2 separate regions of the Homo sapiens genome follow, and region 1 is linked to region 2. A link means that fine-mapping ties the variant in region 2 to the expression of a gene that starts in the linked region. Tissue or cell type: tibial artery. Region 2 holds a variant in brackets; the other region holds the start of a gene. All regions are shown on one strand. Distances are between the middles of the regions.

Region 1 (6,425 bases), 29 kb after region 2:
GGCATCGGTGCTAGGCCTGTGTCCTCAGTCCCCTGGAAACTGTGGGAGAGTGTGTGTGGGCATCGTCTCTGGGAAGGGGGTGAAACCCCAGACTGCGTCTCCCCAGGATGGTGCCTGGCACGTGACCTGGTTTCGCACACAGTTGGTGCCTCATAAATGCGTGTGAATCATAGAGGCGGATGAGGCCAGCACACAGGGAGAGGCGAGAGCAGGCCCTGGCGTCGTGGCGTACGCTGTGCCCTGGGGGGTATTTGCATGTGGGAGTCTCTCTGCCCCCACCCTGGCCCCTGAGCGTGGGGACAGTGGGGACAGGTCTCCTCTTTTTCCTCCCCTGTGTCTGCAGGTGCCTGGCACGGTTGCTGTCCAGGGCTTAGAGGACAGAGGAAGAGCCCCTGAGTCTGTGCACACTCTGCCACCATGGCCCTGCCCACCTCTGGAGCCCACAGGTGCCCAGCCCAGGCCCCTTGCTTTTGGCTAGACTCCTGCCCTACGGGGACCCCCATGATGGCCACTCAGGAGATGGGCCCAGGAGGACAGGGGAGTGACTCCAGGCCATGACCGGAAGGGGCCTGTGGCCCCTGTTCCCAGTCCCCAGGGAGACGGGAGGGTCACACGCTGTTATGAGGAAGAGGACACCGGGCTGGCCCTGGCCCAGGGTGGCCAGCTCTGGTTTCACTACTTGGCCCCAAGCCCCTGAGGCAGGTGCAGGAGCCAGGCACGGTGAGCAGGGCCCAGTGCCCCTCAGGCTCTGGGGAAGGGGTACAGCCAGGTGGCCCAGAGCAAGGAGGTGCTGTAGACAGGTGTGACCACTTCCAGTCTCTCCCGGCCTGCTGGCCTTCATCCTCTCCCAGATTCCAAGGGCCACCGCTGGGAGCATGGGGTGGACATCGTCCCACCAGCCTCCTGGATCCACATCCGTAAAGACTCCAAAGTGAAGTGAGGCTGGCTTCACTCCAGCTCACAGCAGAGGAGGGGGCAGCCTCAGGGCCCAGCAACTTGCTCAGAGCGCACAGGAGTGCGCTGGGGCCGGGCCAGCCTGGCCCAGGGCCTCTGACTCTGCCCCCTGCCTGCAGGGCTGCACGGCCACTGTGTTCCACCCTCCAGCGTGGGTGGCAGTCCAGTGCGTCATTCTGGGGCCTGAGCAGTGTGGCCAGAGGCCGGTCTGGGGTGGAGGCGACCTGGGCTGCAGGTTGTGGCTGGGGTCCTTGCTATGCTTCTGGCAGCAGGAATCAGAGAAGCAGTAACTGGATCCAGCTGAGGGCCTGGCGGCCACCGAGGGTACGGGCGGCGATCAGGTTGCGGCCGAGCCGTGAGCGTTCCACTGGACGGCTTCTACATCCGGAAGGGCTGGGCCGGGCCGGGCCGGGAGCCCACACGGGGTTGGAGGAGGGGGGCAGGAACGAGAGAGGCCAAAAGGTGCAGGGCCGTGAAGAGGGGCGCTGGGCCCACGCTATGAGGAAAAGGGGATCAACCCTGCCCTCCAGCCCCGTAGGCCCTCAGGCCCTCGGGCTCTGGGCTCTGTGCAATCCGGGAGTGGCTGAAATCCAAGCTGAGGGTAATGAAAGGTGCTGCTCCTAAGCCGCACGTCTCTGATCCGCCCTCCCCGCCCGCCCTCTGCTGCCCGCGGGCCCTCTAAGAGCTGCCCAGGCTGCTGCCGCGGGTCAGAGGCGGGTCAGAGCAGGCAGGGGGTTCGTGACGCCGGCTGGGTCTGGGGGCTGTGGGCCAGCCGAGCCGACCCGGGCTTCTGGGGGACCGCGGGGGCCGTGAGCACTCAGAGGGCGCATCCCAGGCCCCTCCGGGGACCCGGCCAGCCTGAAGATGCCGACGAACGGCCTGCACCAGGTGCTGAAGATCCAGTTTGGCCTCGTCAACGACACTGACCGCTACCTGACAGCTGAGAGCTTCGGCTTCAAGGTCAATGCCTCGGCACCCAGCCTCAAGAGGAAGCAGACCTGGGTGCTGGAACCCGACCCAGGACAAGGCACGGCTGTGCTGCTCCGCAGCAGCCACCTGGGCCGCTACCTGTCGGCAGAAGAGGACGGGCGCGTGGCCTGTGAGGCAGAGCAGCCGGGCCGTGACTGCCGCTTCCTGGTCCTGCCGCAGCCAGATGGGCGCTGGGTGCTGCGGTCCGAGCCGCACGGCCGCTTCTTCGGAGGCACCGAGGACCAGCTGTCCTGCTTCGCCACAGCCGTTTCCCCGGCCGAGCTGTGGACCGTGCACCTGGCCATCCACCCGCAGGCCCACCTGCTGAGCGTGAGCCGGCGGCGCTACGTGCACCTGTGCCCGCGGGAGGACGAGATGGCCGCAGACGGAGACAAGCCCTGGGGCGTGGACGCCCTCCTCACCCTCATCTTCCGGAGCCGACGGTACTGCCTCAAGTCCTGTGACAGCCGCTACCTGCGCAGCGACGGCCGTCTGGTCTGGGAGCCTGAGCCCCGTGCCTGCTACACGCTGGAGTTCAAGGCGGGCAAGCTGGCCTTCAAGGACTGCGACGGCCACTACCTGGCACCCGTGGGGCCCGCAGGCACCCTCAAGGCCGGCCGAAACACGCGACCTGGCAAGGATGAGCTCTTTGATCTGGAGGAGAGTCACCCACAGGTGGTGCTGGTGGCTGCCAACCACCGCTACGTCTCTGTGCGGCAAGGTAGGGAGGGCACAGGTGGCGACCTCCTGAGGGGTGCTGGGACCCCCCTGCTTCAGGGAGGAGGCCGTGGGGGTCTCACGGGGAGTGGTATCGTGTCTGTGCGTTCACATGTCTGTTCTGGGCTGGGGGTCCATGTGGGACATGTGTGGCCACTCAGGGTGTAGGTGGGTGGGCCTCGGGCCATGCCCAGGCGACCCCCACTGAGGGGTGGTGGCTTCAGGGTCAGAGGCAAGGGTTCCTGGCCTTTCTCAGCATAGCTGGAGAATGTCTCAGCCAAGCCCTGGGCAGCTGCGGAGTCTGAGACTGGAGAGGTGTGGGCCAGGCGATGGGCAGTGCCCAGCAGGGGCAGGAGGCCCACAGCCTGGCCTGGTGCCATGAGGGGCATGTGGGCAGGAGGCTGTGGGGGGTCCATATCTCCCCTTCTTTTTCTCCACCCCATTTTCTGGACTTCATTTATTTATTTATTTTTTGAGACAGAGTCTCGCTCTGTCACCCAGGCTGGAGCGCAGTGGCGTGATCTCGGCTCACTGCAAGCGCCGCCTCACGGGTTCACGCCATTCTCCTGCCTCAGCCTCCCGAGTAGCTGGGACTACAGGCGCCCGCCACCACGCCCGGCTAATTTTTTGTATTTTTTAGAAGAGACGGGGTTTCACTGTGTTAGCCAGGATGGTCTTGATCTCCTGACCTTGTGATCTGTCCACCTCGGCCTCCCAAAGTGCTGGGATTACAGGCGTGAGCCACCGTGCCCGGCTGCATTTTCTGGACTTTAAAGGAAATTGGGGAGGAGCCCAGGGTAGGGCAGGGAGCTGGGGATCGGGCGGGGATAGCACCACCACGTGCCTGACCAGTGGAGCCTCGTGTCCTCAGGAGTGGGGGGGCTTAAGGTCAGCTCCAGTGATGGAGGACACGGTGGGCAGGCAGCTTTACCCGGGGCCTGGGCTCCTGGTGGGGAGGCACCTCCCTGCCCCAGTGGGGCGTGGCCTGGCTCTCCCCAGTTCCCAGGTCACCAGTTGCCTGTCTGTGTGACTCCCTCCACCGCCTATGGGGTGAACCCCAGCAGTTCCTCCTTCCCCACAAGCTGAGCTCTGAGGGAAAAGCCCTGGCCCGGGCAGTCACTACCCACCTGGGCTCCTGGCTCCATGCACCCCAGAGTGGCTCGGAGGTGGTCTGAAAAGGCGAGGTGGGGAGAGCCGGGTGCATGGAGCTCCTCCTCCCAACTCAGGTCCTTCCAGACCAGCATCAGCTGGGCAAGGAGAGCTCCCCTGTCTCCTGGCAGCTCCCAGGTGCCCACCAAGCCCCCACCCTGACGGATGTCCAGGCCCCCTGGGTACACTGACACTCTGGGGCCAGATGGCAGAGGCCCCACCCTGTGCATGGAGAGGGGAGCCCAGCCATGGCTATGGGGTCCTGCACCTGCAGTTGGCATCCTCGGGCCTGTCCCAGCAGTGACAGGGTCCCAGGAGTGAGAATTCAACTGTGGATGCACGGCCATGGCCCTTCCTTCCTATCACAGCCCACAGTCCAGCTGTAATGCCTGCTGGCCTGGGCCCAGGCCGGGCATGTGGCAATCCTTAGGTGGTTAAAGGGGGTAAGTGGGACAGTGGCAGTGAGAATGCTTCCTCCATGGAAGCCAAAGACACTAGACCTTTAGGCATTTGTATATGGACAGCTTGGAAAGCAGACTCAAAGTGGCAGTCATGGCCGTGGCCGTGGCATTGTGGTGTGATGTGCATGGTGGCGTGGAAGTGGAGGTGAGGACGGTGGTGACAGTGTGGTGGCAGCAGCGACAATGATGGTGATGGTGATGATGGTGGTGATGGTGATGATGGTGGTGATGGTGGTGATGGTGGTGATGGTGGTGATGGTGATAATGGTGATGGTGGTGATGATGGTGATGGTGATGATGGTGGTGATGGCGGTGGTGATGGTGATGGTGGTGATGGTGATGGTGGTGGTGGTGATGATGGTGGTGGTGGTGATGGTGGTGGTGATGATGGTGATGGTGATGATGGTGGTGGTGATGGTGGTGATGGTGATGATGGTGATGGTGATGGTGGTGGTGATAGTGATGATGGAGATGGTGGTGATGGTGGTGGTGATGGTGATGATGGTGGTGGTGGTGATGGTGATGATGGTGATGGTGATGGTGGTGATGGTGATGGTGGTGATGGCGATGGTGGTGATGATGGTGATGGCGATGATGGTGATGATAGTGATGGTGATGATGGTGATGGTGATAGTGATGATAATGGTGATGATGGTGATGGTGGTGGTGATGGTGGTGGTGGTGATGATAGTGATGGTGATGATGATGGTGATGATGATGGTGATGATGGTGATGGTGATGATGATAGTGATGGTGGTGATGGTGATGGTGATGATGGTGATGATAGTGATGGCGATGATGGTGATGATAGTGATGGTGATGATGGTGATGATGATAATGGTGATGATGGTGGTGGTGATGGTGGTGGTGGTGATGGTGGTGATGGTGATGGTGGTGATGGCGATGATGGTGATGATGGTGATGGCGATGATGGTGATAGTGATGGTGATGATGGTGATGGTGATAGTGATGATAATGGTGATGATGATGGTGATGGTGATAGTGATGATAATGGTGATGATGATGGTGATGGTGGTGGTGATGGTAGTGGTGGTGATGATAGTGATGGTGATGATGATGGTGATGATGGTGATGGTGATGATAGTGATGGTGGTGATGGTGATGGTGATGATGGTGATGATAGTGATGGCGATGATGGTGATGATAGTGATGGTGATGATGGTGATGGTGATGATGATGGTGATGGTGGTGGTGATGGTGGTGGTGATGGTGGTGGTGGTGATGATAGTGATGGTGATGATGATAATGGTGATGATGGTGATGGTGATGATGATGATGATAGTGATGGTGGTGATGGTGATGGTGGTGATGATGATGATAGTGATGGCGATGATGGTGATGATAGTGATGGTGATGATGATGATAGTGATGGTGGTGATGGTGATGGTGATGATAGTGATGGCGATGATGGTGATGATAGTGATGGTGATGATGGTGATGGTGATGATAATGGTGATGATGATGGTGATGGTGGTGGTGATGGTGGTGGTGGTGATGATAGTGATGGTGATGATGGTGATGATAATGGTGACGATGGTGATGATGATGATAGTGATGGTGGTGATGGTGATGGTGGTGATGGTGATGGTGGTGATGATAGTGATGGTGATGGTGATGATGGTGATGGTGATGATAATGGTGATGATGGTGATGGTGATGATGGTGGTGATGGTGATGATGGAGGCAATGGTGATGATAGTGATGGTGATGGCGATAGTGATAGTGATGGTGGTGGTGATAGTGATGGTGATGGTGATGATGACAGTGATGATGGTGATGGTGGTGATGGAGGGGTGCTGACAGAGTGGTGGAGGGATGGGGACTGTATGGACCATTTTTCAGTCTCTTGATCCTCAACCACCCTGCATCTGACCCTATCATCCCTTTGAGGGGAGAATCCCCTACTCAAGACCAGCTCCCATCTCCCACTTTAGAAGCAGGAAGCAGCAGCCACTCGCCTCCCTGCCTTCAACAGGGCTGAGGGTGAGGACCCAACCACCAGGTGTTTCAGGCTCTGGATTGGCGGCCAGGGCTGTAGGGAGCGGGACATGGCATCTCAGTCCTGGGGCATGGAACCTCACGGCTTCCAAGGCAGCTGCAGCGTGGGTGGTGCCATAGCATCACCCCTACCCGGCCTCTGTGGAGTGGCTACAT
Region 2 (10,849 bases):
TGCCTGCAGTCCCAGCTACTTGGGAGGCTGAGGTGGGAGGATGGCTTCAACCCTGGAGGCCAAAGCTGCAGTGAGCTATGATTGCACCACTGCACTCCAGCCTGGGCAACACACTGAGACCCCCATCTCTTAAAAAAAAAAAAAAAAGGTAGTGGCTGGAGTGGTGGGAACCCTTTAACACTCATGTCATCATGACAGAGTTGATTATAACCCAATCATGTGGCAGCAACTGACTTGTCCAATGAGGAGAGTAAGTGAATCTCAGTCCAGCCATCCTACAATGAATATTTAATAACCCGGGGAAAAAACTTAAGTTCTAATGGCAAATGGAAAGATTAGGATATACCTGTAGTTGTCTTGGCAAAGTCTTACAAGGTATTATTTATTGAAAGCAACAAGCCAGTTGTGCAAACCTGCCTCATTTGAAATTACTTGGCAGGAATGTTTGGAAAATTCCTCCTATTTAAAAAAACTTCCCCTTGAAAATTAGGAAAAGCCTTAAAATGAAAATACCTGGGAGAAACCTAAAGATGGTTGGCTGAGAGCTTTGAAAATGTGGACATTCCCAGACAAGTTCATAATGATGCCATAAATAAGAATGCTTGCAGCCCGGCTCAATGGTTTATGCCTGTAATCCCAGCACTTTGGAAGACTGATGTGGGAGGACTGCTTGAGACCAAGAGTTCGAGGCCAGCCTGGGCAATATGGTGAGACCCCATCTCTACAAAAAAATTAAAAATTCACCGAGCATGGTGGCTCACACCTTTAGCCCCAGCTACATGGGGAGGCTTGAGCCCAGGAGGTCAAGGCTGCAGTAAGCTATGATCATGCCACTGCACTACAGACTGGGTGACAGAGTGAGACCCTATCTCAAAAAGAAAAAAAAAAATGGAGGCCGGGCATAGTGGCTCATGCCTGTAATCCCAGCACTTTGGAAGGCCAAGGTGGGCAAATCACTTGAGATCAAGAGTTGGAGACCAGCCTGGCCAAAATGGTGAAACCCCATTTCTGCTAAAAATACAATAAAAATTAGCCAGTTGTGGTGCCACATGCCTGTAATCCCAGATACTCAGGAGGCTGAGGCAGGAGAATCGCTTGAAGCTGGGAGGCAGCTATGTCAGTGAGCCAAGATCGTGACACTGCACTCCAGCCTGGGCAACAGAGTGAGACTCCATCTCAAAAAAAAGAAAAGAAAAAAAAATGAACCATGGACATAAATGTAAAATGCAAAATTATAAAAGTTCTAGAACAAAACATAGGAGAAAATCTACATGACCTTAAATTAGGTCATGAGTTTTTTTGTTTGTTTTTTGTTTTTGTTTTTTTTTTGAGATGGAGTCTCAATCTGTGTCCCAGGCTGGAGTGCAATGGCATGATCTCAGCTCACTGAAACCACCGCCTCCTGGGTTCAAGCAATTCTCCTGCCTCAGCCTCCCAAGTAGCTAGTATCACAGGCGCTCATCACCATACTCGGCTAATTTTTGTATTTTTAGTGGAGACGGGGTTTCACCGTGTTGGCCAGGCTGGTCTTGAACTCCTGACCTCAAGTGATCTACCCATCTCGGCCTCCCAAAGTGCTGGGATTACAGGCATGAGCCACTGCACCTGACCAGGTCGTGAGTTTTTACATACAGCACCAAAATCATTATCTATTAAAGAAAAAACTGAATTGATATTATTAAAATTTAAAACTTGGGCTGGGCACAGTGGCTCACATCTGTATTCCCAGCACTTTGGGAGGCCGAGGCGGGTGGATCGCTTGAGGTCAAGAGTTTGAGACCAGCCTGGCCAATATGGTGAAACCCAATCTCTAATTTTAAAAAACACAAAAAGTAGCCGGGCGTGATGGTGCACACCTGTAGTCCCAGCTACTTGGGAGGTTGAGGCAGGAGAATTGCTTGAACCCAGGAGGCGGAGGTTGCAGTGAGCCGAGATCATGCCACTTGCACTCCAGCCTGGCTGACAAGTGAAACTCCATCTCAAAAAAAAAAAAAAAAAAGAGCACGGAAATTCAAATTCCAACACACTCTGCACCACAGGTCCGCCTTGAGGACTGTGCGTTAAGTGAAATAGGCCAGTCACAAAAGACAAATCCTGTACAGTTCCACATGTAGGAGGGACCTAGAGCAGCTAAATTCATACAGACAGAAAGTGAAATGGTGGCTGCCGGGGGCTGGGTGGAGGAGAAGGAGTTGTTTGATGGGTACAGCTTTTTGGTTTTGCAAGATGAAAGTTCTGGAGATTTTGGCTGAACAACAGTGCAGATGCTCAGTGCCCAACTGTATGCTCAAAAGTGGATGGCTGGGAGCGGGGGCTCACTCCTGCAGTCCCAGCACTTTGGGAGGCGGAAGTGGGCAGATCAGCTGAGGTCAGGAGTTCGAGACCAGCCTGGCCAACATAGTGAAACACTGTCTCTACTAAAAGTACAAAATTAGCCGGGCGTGGTGGTGTGTGCCTGTAATCCCAGCTACTTGGGAGGCTGAGGCAGGAGAATCGCTTGAACCCGAGAGGTGGAGGTTGCGGTTAGCCGAGATCATGCCACTGCACCCCAGCCTGGGCGACAGAGCGAGATTCCGTCAAAAAAAAAAAAAAAAAAAAAGAACCGGGTATGGTGGCATGTGCCTGTAGTTCCAGCTATTCAGGAGGCTGAGGTGGGAGGATCACTTGAGCTTGGGAGGTTGAGGCTGCAGTGAGCTGTGATCTTGCCACTGCACTCCAGGCTGGGCGACAGAGCAAGATCCTGTCTCAAAATTTGAAACAACTTCAAAGAAGGAAAGGAAGCTATGCCTGTTGCATACAAGCAGAATCTTCCTCGCGGCTCGGCCTGCTCCAGCCTCCCGGAGGATGAGCCTCTGACCAGGGCCGGCCCAGGTGCCACAGTCACAGCCAGTGGCCCGCAGTTCTGAGGCCCCTGGCACCGCTGAGGCGTCCCTGGAGCTTCCTCACCAGCCTCACGCATCCTGCCGGGGTGGCGGGGTCAGGGCCCACCTCTGGGCACGGGAGGCGTGGGCCTCACGGGCCACGGATGGGAGCCCAGGGCAGGGGGCTGGAGCCCTCGGGGGTCAGAGCCCGTGCGCCTTCCAGGGCGGAGGCGGTCAGCCGATGGACCAGGCGGTGCCGCAGCGACAGAGGGGGTTGAGATCGGGGCTTTCCCCTGCGACCAGCTCGCAGCCTGACGTCGGCCTCGCTCTGGGGAAACCAAGGCACGGGCACGCGCGGGCGTGGCGCCAACGTCCTCGCTGCCGGCCCCGCCTCGCCCGGGACAGCGCCCCGGCCCTGCTCCCCGCTCTACGGCCCCGCGCCCCGGCCATCTGCGGCTCCTCTTGCTTCGCGCCCGCGCCGCGCTCTGCCCACGCCCAGCCCCGCAGCTTCTCTGTGACCCCCGCCTGCCGCACCCCGGCTAGGGGCTTATTAGCGCCACGGAGCTGAGCTGGACGTGTCCAGGATCTGGGGAGGGAGCAGCCCAGAGAGGGCAGGGCCTGGCCAGGCCTCCCCAGGCAGCCCTGCGGTCCTGCAGCCACGAGGGGAGGGGACGCCACAAATCCGGGTGCCGACCCGGGCCAGGAGAGTCGGGAAATGGGCCTTGGCTGGGACCCAGGCCGACTCTGATCCCGCGGGCCTCGTAGCCCCTCCAGCCCTCGGCCATGCAAAGTGGGGGTCCCACGGGATGAGCCCCAGTGTGGGAGCCCAGCTCGGACAGACATCACCCCTCAGTCCCCCGACCCTCCGCCCCAGGAGAGAAGCTGGACGCTTGCCTGGGCGACCAGGTCCAGGCCACCCTAGGCAGTGAGGAGCAGCAGGGGGCCATGGCGAGAGGACAGGGAGGGCCTCTGTTGGGCCTCGGAGGTGGAGACCCCACTGCTGAGCCACAGCTGGGGCATGCATTGGCTTTCTTCTGAGCATCTGTCTGGGGAACCGCCGTGGGAGGAGCAGAGCCCCTCGGGCACTGGTAGGGAAGCCAGGCTGCCAACAGCCCTGCCACCCTGGCTGCAGGTTCTGGAGCCGGGGACCCTCTAGGCTGAAGTTCTCCAAGTGGGTTGAGCCCAGGTATCCGTTTATCCTAGGTAGGCCTCCATGCCTGAAGGTCCCGGGCTCCTCTGGACCACCCGTCCTGCCAGGGGGCAGACAGGCCTCCTGTCCCTTCCTGTTCTGTTCTGCTCCCTAAACTCCAAGCTAAGTGTGTCCCTGGGCAGCTGGGTCTTAAGAGCCTGAAAGGCTGCATGGAGTCTGTTTGTTCGTTCAGAGGAATCTCAGCTATTTCCTGGGAGGCTCCATCTGAGCCTGGTAGGTCCCGGATGAGGGGTGGGTGGCCCGGTGAGCAGGTCAGCCTGTCCTCAGGGGCTTGCAGCACACCCGCCAGGGTGGCAATTATCCAAAATATAGAAAACAAGTGCCACTGAGGATGTGAAGCAACTGGAACTCTTGTCCACTGCCGATGGGAATGCAAGATGAGGCAGCTGCTGTGGAGAACTGTTGGTTCCTCAGAAAGGTGCACAGAATGACCCTATGACCAGCAGTCCACGCCGGCCACAGACCCCAGAGAACTGCAGGCAGGCCCTGGAACACATACTTCACAAGCAGAATGTAGTATAGACATATACTGCAGTATTTCTCAGCTTTAAAAAGGAAGGGCCAGGCACGGTGGCTCACGCCTGTAATCCCAACCCAGAGGGTGAGGCAGGTGGATCACTTGAGGTCAGGAGTTGGAGACCAGCCTGGCCAACATGGTGAAACCCCGGCTCTTCTAAAAATACAAAAATTATCCAGATGTGGTGGTGGGCACCTGTAGTCCCAGCTACTCAGGAGGCTGAGGCAGGAGAATCACTTGAATCCGGGAGGCGGAGGTAGCAGTGAGCCGAGATCGTGCCACTGCACTCCAGCCTTGGCAACAGAGTGACACTCCATCTCAAAAAAAAAAAAAAAAAAAAAAAAAAGAGAGACAGAGGTTGCAGTGAGCCTGAGATCACGCCACTGCACTCCAGCCTGGATGATGGAGAATCTGTCTCAAAAAAAAAAAAAAGGAAGGAAGGTGTGGTGGCTCACATCTGTAATCCCAACACCAACACTTTGGAAGGCAGAGGCAGAAGGACTGGTTGAGCCCAAGAGTTGGAGACCAGCCTGGGCAACATGGCAAGACCCCATCTCTATAAAATAAATAAATAAATAAAATTGGCCGGGCGCAGTGGCTCATGCCTGTAGTCTCAGCACTTTGGGAGTCCAAGGCAGGCAGATTGCTTGAGTTCAGGAGCTCGAGACCAGCCTGAGTGATACGGTGAAACCTCGTCTTTCCTAAAAATACCAAAAAATTAGCCGGGCTTGGTGGCATGCACCTGTATTCCCAGCTACTCAGGAGGCCGAGGTGGGAAGATCACCTGAGCCCAGCCAGTGACTGAGCTTGCACCACTGCACTTCAGCATGGGCAACAAAGTGAGACCCTGTCTCTAAAAAATAAATAAATAAAAGTAAATAAATTAAATTAGCCAGGCGTGGTGGCACACGCCTGTGGTCCCAGCTACTCCAGAGGCTGAGATGGGCAGATTGCTGGAGTCAGGGAGGTTGAGGCTGTGGTCAACTGTGATTATGCCAGTTCACTATGGCTTATGTTACACTGCAAGACCCTGTCCAAAAAAAGAAAAAAAAAAAAAAGGAAGAAAATTGTTGTTTAATAGATATAGAGTTTCAG[T/C]CGGCATGGTGGCTCACGCCTGTAATTCCAGTACTTTGGGAGGCCGAGGTGGGAGGATTGCCTGAGGTCAGGAGTTTGAGACCAGCCTGGCCAACATGGTGAAACCCTGTCTCTACTAAAAATACAAAAAGTAGCCAGATGTGTTGGTGCATGCCTGTAGTCCCAGCTACTTGGGAGGCTGAGGCAGGAGAATCCCTTGAACCCGGGAGGCGGAGGTTGCAGTGAGCCGAGATCGTGCCACTGCACTGCAGCCTAGTGACAGAGCAAGACTCCGTCTCAAAAAAATAAAAGAAAATAGTTGTAGAGTTTCAGTTTGGGAAGATGAAAGAATTCTGAACATGTGGTAATAGAGGCACAGCTTTGTGACGTAATGACTGTACACTTCAACACCATTAAAATGATCAATTTTGTGTTATGCATGTTTTACCATAATCTAAAACAAATTTTTTGGGGGGCTGGGCGTGGTGGCTCACACCTGTAATCCTAGCACTTTGGGAGGCCAAGGAGGGTGGATCAACTGAGGTCACGAGTTCAAGACCAGCCTGGCCAACATGGTGAAACCCCATCTCTACTAAAAATATAAAAATTATCTGGGTGTGGTGGTGGATGCCTGTAATCCCAGCCACTTGGGAGGCTGAGGCAGGAGAATCGCTTGAACCCAGGAGGCAGAGGTTGCAGTGAGCTGAGACTGCACTATTGCATTCCAGCCTGGGCAACAGAGCAAAAACTCTGTCTCAAAAAAAAAAAAAAAAAAAAAAGAAAGAAATTTTTTTTTAATCCTGCATATCGGGGAGGGAGATGGACGAGTAACAGAGGGTGGAAGTGGAGGAAGGCGTGCTTCCCGGGAGAGGACTGGGCTGTGTGGGGATGCTGTGGACGGCTGCACAGGTGGTGCACTGCACAACTGCAGGGGATGCCATTCACATAGACCATGATGCTGCATCATGTGTGAAGTATGCACCACGGCAGTCCTCTCTGGAGGGCACCCTGAGAAGGGCCGCCAGCAGGGAGCTGGACAGCACGGGGACACATCCTTTCCAGCAGGAAAGGATTCCAAACGACCACCAGCAGGCGGGCAGGCCAAGCATAGCTGAAGGGAGCCATGGGAGGCCACGAGGTGCTCTGTGTACAGCAGGCAGCCCCAGCACTTGGCCCACGTGCTGCACAGAGGAAAACACCTGCCCACAGCTGTCTCTGGCTCTGATGTTTAGGACCCACCTCCAACCAAGCAAGGGTCCTGTAAGTCAGAAAATCTCTCAGTCATCGGAGCCAGGATTTGCCAACGTGAACCACTGAACTTCCCCCTTGGTCTCCATCCTCTATGAAAACATGAAAGGGGTTTGAAATTGCATCCAATAAACACAATGTCCATCTCCTGCCGGGGAAAATTGGTCTGGGTAGAGGGATGCCGGTGGTGTGGACAGGCTCTGAAAGCTGCAGGAAGGCTCGGCTTGGAGAACATCCTCCACCTCTGCCTACCATCAGGACCCAGGGATCCTGGGGAAGGGGAGCCCTTTCAGGAGTGCCCTGAAGTCCCCCAGCACGTGTGACACTTCTCAGAGCAGGCATCCCTTCCAGAAGTTTCTGTTAACTAAGCTGAATGGCATTTAAGATATTGAAAACAGGCTGGGCGCGGTGGCTTACACCTGTAATCCCAGCACTTTGGGAGGCCGAGGCGGGCGGATCACGAGGTCAGGAGATCGAGACCATCCTGGCTAACACTGTGAAACCCCGTCTCTAGTAAAAATACAAAAAATTAGCCAGGCGTGGTGGCGGGCGCCTGTGGTCCCAGCTACTCGGGAGGCTGAGGCAGGAGAATGGTGTGAACCCAGGAGGCGGAACTTGTAGTGAGCCGAGATCGCGCCCCTGCACCCCAGCCTGGGCGACAGAGCGAGACTCCATCTCAAAAAGAAAAAAAAGGAAGGATAGAATTAGAAAACCATTAACCAGGCGTGCTGGTCCTAGCTACTAGGGAGACTGAGGTGGGAGGATTGCTTGAGCCCCTGAGGTCAAGGCTACAGTGAGCCTCTATTGCCACTGCACTCCAGCCAGGGTGACAGAGCAAGACCCTGGAAAGAAGAAAAGAAAGAAAGAAAGGAAAGAGGAAAGGAAGAAGGAAAGCAAGCAAGAAAGAAAGCAAGCAAGAAAGAAAGAGGAGAAAGAAAAGAAAGAGAGAAAAAAGGAAAGAAAGAAAAAAGAAAAAGAAAGAAGGGAGGGAGGGAGGGAAAGAAAGAAGGGAAGGAAGGAAGGAAGGGAGAAGAAAGGGAGGGAGAAAGGGAAAGAAAAGAAGAAAAGAAAAGAAAAGGCCAGGTGCAGTGCCTCATGCCTGTAATCCCAGCACTTTGGAAGGCCAAGGTGGGCAGATCACCTGAGGTCAGAAGTTCAAGACCAGCCTGGCCAACCAACATGGTGAAACCCTGGCTCTACAGAAAATACAAAAATTAGTGGGGCATGGTGGTGGGCACCTATAATCCCAGCTACTTGGGAAGCTGAGGCAGGAGAATCGCTTGAACCCAGAAGGTGGAGGTTACAGTGAGCCGAGATCACACCACCGGACTCCAGTCTGGGCAACAAGAGCAAAACTCCATTAAAAAAAAGAAAGAAATAGGCCAGGCGCAGTGGCTCACGCCTGTAATCCCAGCACTCTGGGAGGCCGAGACAGGCAGATCACGAGGTCAGGAGATCAAGACCATCCTGGCTAACACGGTGAAATCCCATCTCTACTAAAAATACAAAAAAAAAATTAGCCAGGCGTGGTGGTGGGCGCCTATAGTCCCAGCTACTCAGGAGGCTGAGGCAGGAGAATTGCTGGAAACTGGAGGCGGAGGCCGCACTCCAGCGGCGAGAGAGTGAGACTCCATCAAAAAAGAAAGGGAGGGAGGGAAGGAGGGAAGGAGAGAAGGAGGGAGGGAGGGAGAGGAGGAGAGGAGAAAAGAGGGAGGGGAGGGGAGTGGAGGGGGAGAATAATTTGTAACCACTAATGAAATAGCAGGTCCTGGCAGGGATTTCCAATGGCTGCTAATATCACAACATCAGGCTCTGTGGGACTCTTTCCCTCTCCATGAAGTTGCACCCACCCTGTGGTCATCTTCTTGCTAAAAAAATCAACCTGAATGAGATTAAACAGACCAGTTTGGACATTTACACCTAGAGCTAACTGACTATAGGAAATATAAGGGTTGAGGAACGTGCCACATCAACCACAAGGACGAAATCAGCAAAATCCAGACAGGTGGAACCCTTTGGAACAAAAGACCTGCCTTCTTCCACAAATAACCTGAAAGGAGAAAAATGAAAGAGGGTAAATCCCGCGGTTAAAAGAGATTTAAGAGACATAGTGGCCAAGTGCAATGATTGGAAACCAACCGTTAAAAGAAATTTAGGTGGGTCGCGGTGGCTCACGCCTGTAATCCCAGCACTTTGGGGGGCCGAGGCGGGTGGATCACGAGGTCAGGAGATCGAGACCATCCTGGCCAACACGGTGAAACCCCGTCTCTACTAAAAATACAAAAAAAATACAAAAAAATACAAAAAAAATACCCCGTCTCTACTAAAAATACACCAGCCGGGCGTGGTGGTGGGCGCCTGTAGTCCCAGCTACTCGGGAGGCTGAGGCAGGAGAATGGCATGAACCCAGGAGGCGGAGCTTGCAGCGAGCCGAGATCACACCACTGCACTCCAGCCCGGGTGACAGAGTGAGACTCCGTCTCAAAAAAAAAAAAGAAAGAAATTTAAGGCTGGGCATGGTGGCTCACACCTGTAATCGCCACATTTTAGGAGGCTGAGGTGAGAGGATCTCTTGAGACCAGGAGCTTGAGACCAGCCTAAGCAACATAGGGAGACCCCATCTCTACAGAAAGTTTAAAAATTATCTGGGCATGGTGGTGCACGCCTGTAGTCCCAGCTACTCAAGCGGCTGAGGTGGGAGGATTGCTTGAGCCTAGGAAGTCGAGGCTGCAGTGAGCTGTGATTGTGCCACTGCACTCTAGCCTGGGCAACAAAGCAAGACCCTGTCCCCCCAAAAAAACAGACAAACAAAACAACAACAAAAAATTTAAGACAACCAAGGAAATTTGGACATTAGATGATACTAAGTATCGATCAATAATTGGTGGGTGGGGGCATGATACTGTGATTTTTTTTTTTTTTTTTTTTTTTTTGAGATAGAGTCTTGCTCTGTCACCCAGGCTGGAGTGCAGTGGCTCAATCTCGGCTCACTGCAACCTCTGCCATGTGGGTTCAAGCAATTCTCCTGCCTCAGCCTCTGGAATAGCTGGGATTACAGGCGCACGCCACCATGCCTGGCTAATTTTTGTATTTTTAGTAGAGATGGGTTTCACCATGTTGGCCAGGCTGGTCTTGAACTCCTGACCTCGTGATCCGCCCGTCTCGGCTTCCCAAAGTGGTGGGATTACAGGAATGAGCCACCGCGCCCAGCTTGTGGTTGTTTTTTCAAAAAGAGTCCTAGGCTGGGTGCAGTGGCTCATGCCTGTAATCCCAGCACTTTGGGAGGCCTAAGCAGGAGGACCATTGAGTCCAGGAGTTCAGCCTGGGCAACATAGTGAGATGCTGTCTCCAAAAAAAACACAAAAGCAAACAAACAAAAGGCCATGGAGGAGGCCAATCCCCAGCTGTGCTGAGCCAGGATCAGATTCTCTCAGCCCCTTTCAGCAGCACCTGTCCTCCTCTGAGTCAATATATTGCTGTTGCAGCCGGGCGCGGTGGCTCATGCCTGTAATCCCAGCACTTTGGGAGGCCGAGGTGGACGGATCACCTGAGGTCAGGAGTTTGAGACCAGACTGACCAACATGGAGAAACCCCATCTCTACCGAAAATACAAAATTAGCTGGGCGCGGTGGCGCATGCCTGTAATCCCAGCTACTTGGGAGGCTGAGGCAGGAGAATCGCTTGAACCCAGGAGGTGGAGGTTGTGGTGAGCTGAGATTGCGCCATTGCACTCCAATTGGGCAACAAGAGCGACACTCCATCTCAAAAAAGAAAAAAAAAAGAAAGAAAAAGAAAAAGAAATATGGAACATAAAAGTTACCATTTTAATCGTTTAAAAGTGTACAGGCCAGGCGCAGTGGCTCACACCTGTGATCCCAGCACTTTGGGAGGCCGAGGCAGGCAGATCACCTGAGGTCAGGGGATCAAGACCATTCCGGC

Alleles and levels. Positions count from the first base shown, and alleles are read on the strand shown. Sizes are in standard deviations (SD) of each study's normalised expression.
As copies of T replace C in region 2, the expression in tibial artery of the gene that starts at base 1,664 in region 1 goes up (moderate effect, 0.51 SD a copy in GTEx).

What was found. PIP is the estimated chance that this variant, and not a neighbour inherited with it, causes the effect. A credible set is the group of variants that fine-mapping cannot tell apart.
Region 1: FSCN2 starts here. The variant in region 2 is the best candidate, but not a certain one, in a credible set for the expression of FSCN2 in tibial artery (GTEx, PIP 0.68).

Annotation. Positions count from the first base shown.
Region 1 is chr17:81,526,714-81,533,138 of GRCh38, forward strand. It overlaps FSCN2 (fascin actin-bundling protein 2, retinal), which reads left to right and starts at 1,664. Exons shown (of 5, transcript NM_012418.4): 1 at 1,664-2,644. The coding sequence starts at 1,819. RefSeq lists enhancers at 1,586-2,112, 2,113-2,638.
Region 2 is chr17:81,495,977-81,506,825 of GRCh38, forward strand. No RefSeq gene overlaps it. Among named protein-coding and RNA genes, the nearest start is that of ACTG1, 11 kb to the right of the region's middle. RefSeq lists an enhancer at 3,917-4,640. The variant T/C (reference allele first, on the strand shown) is at 5,684.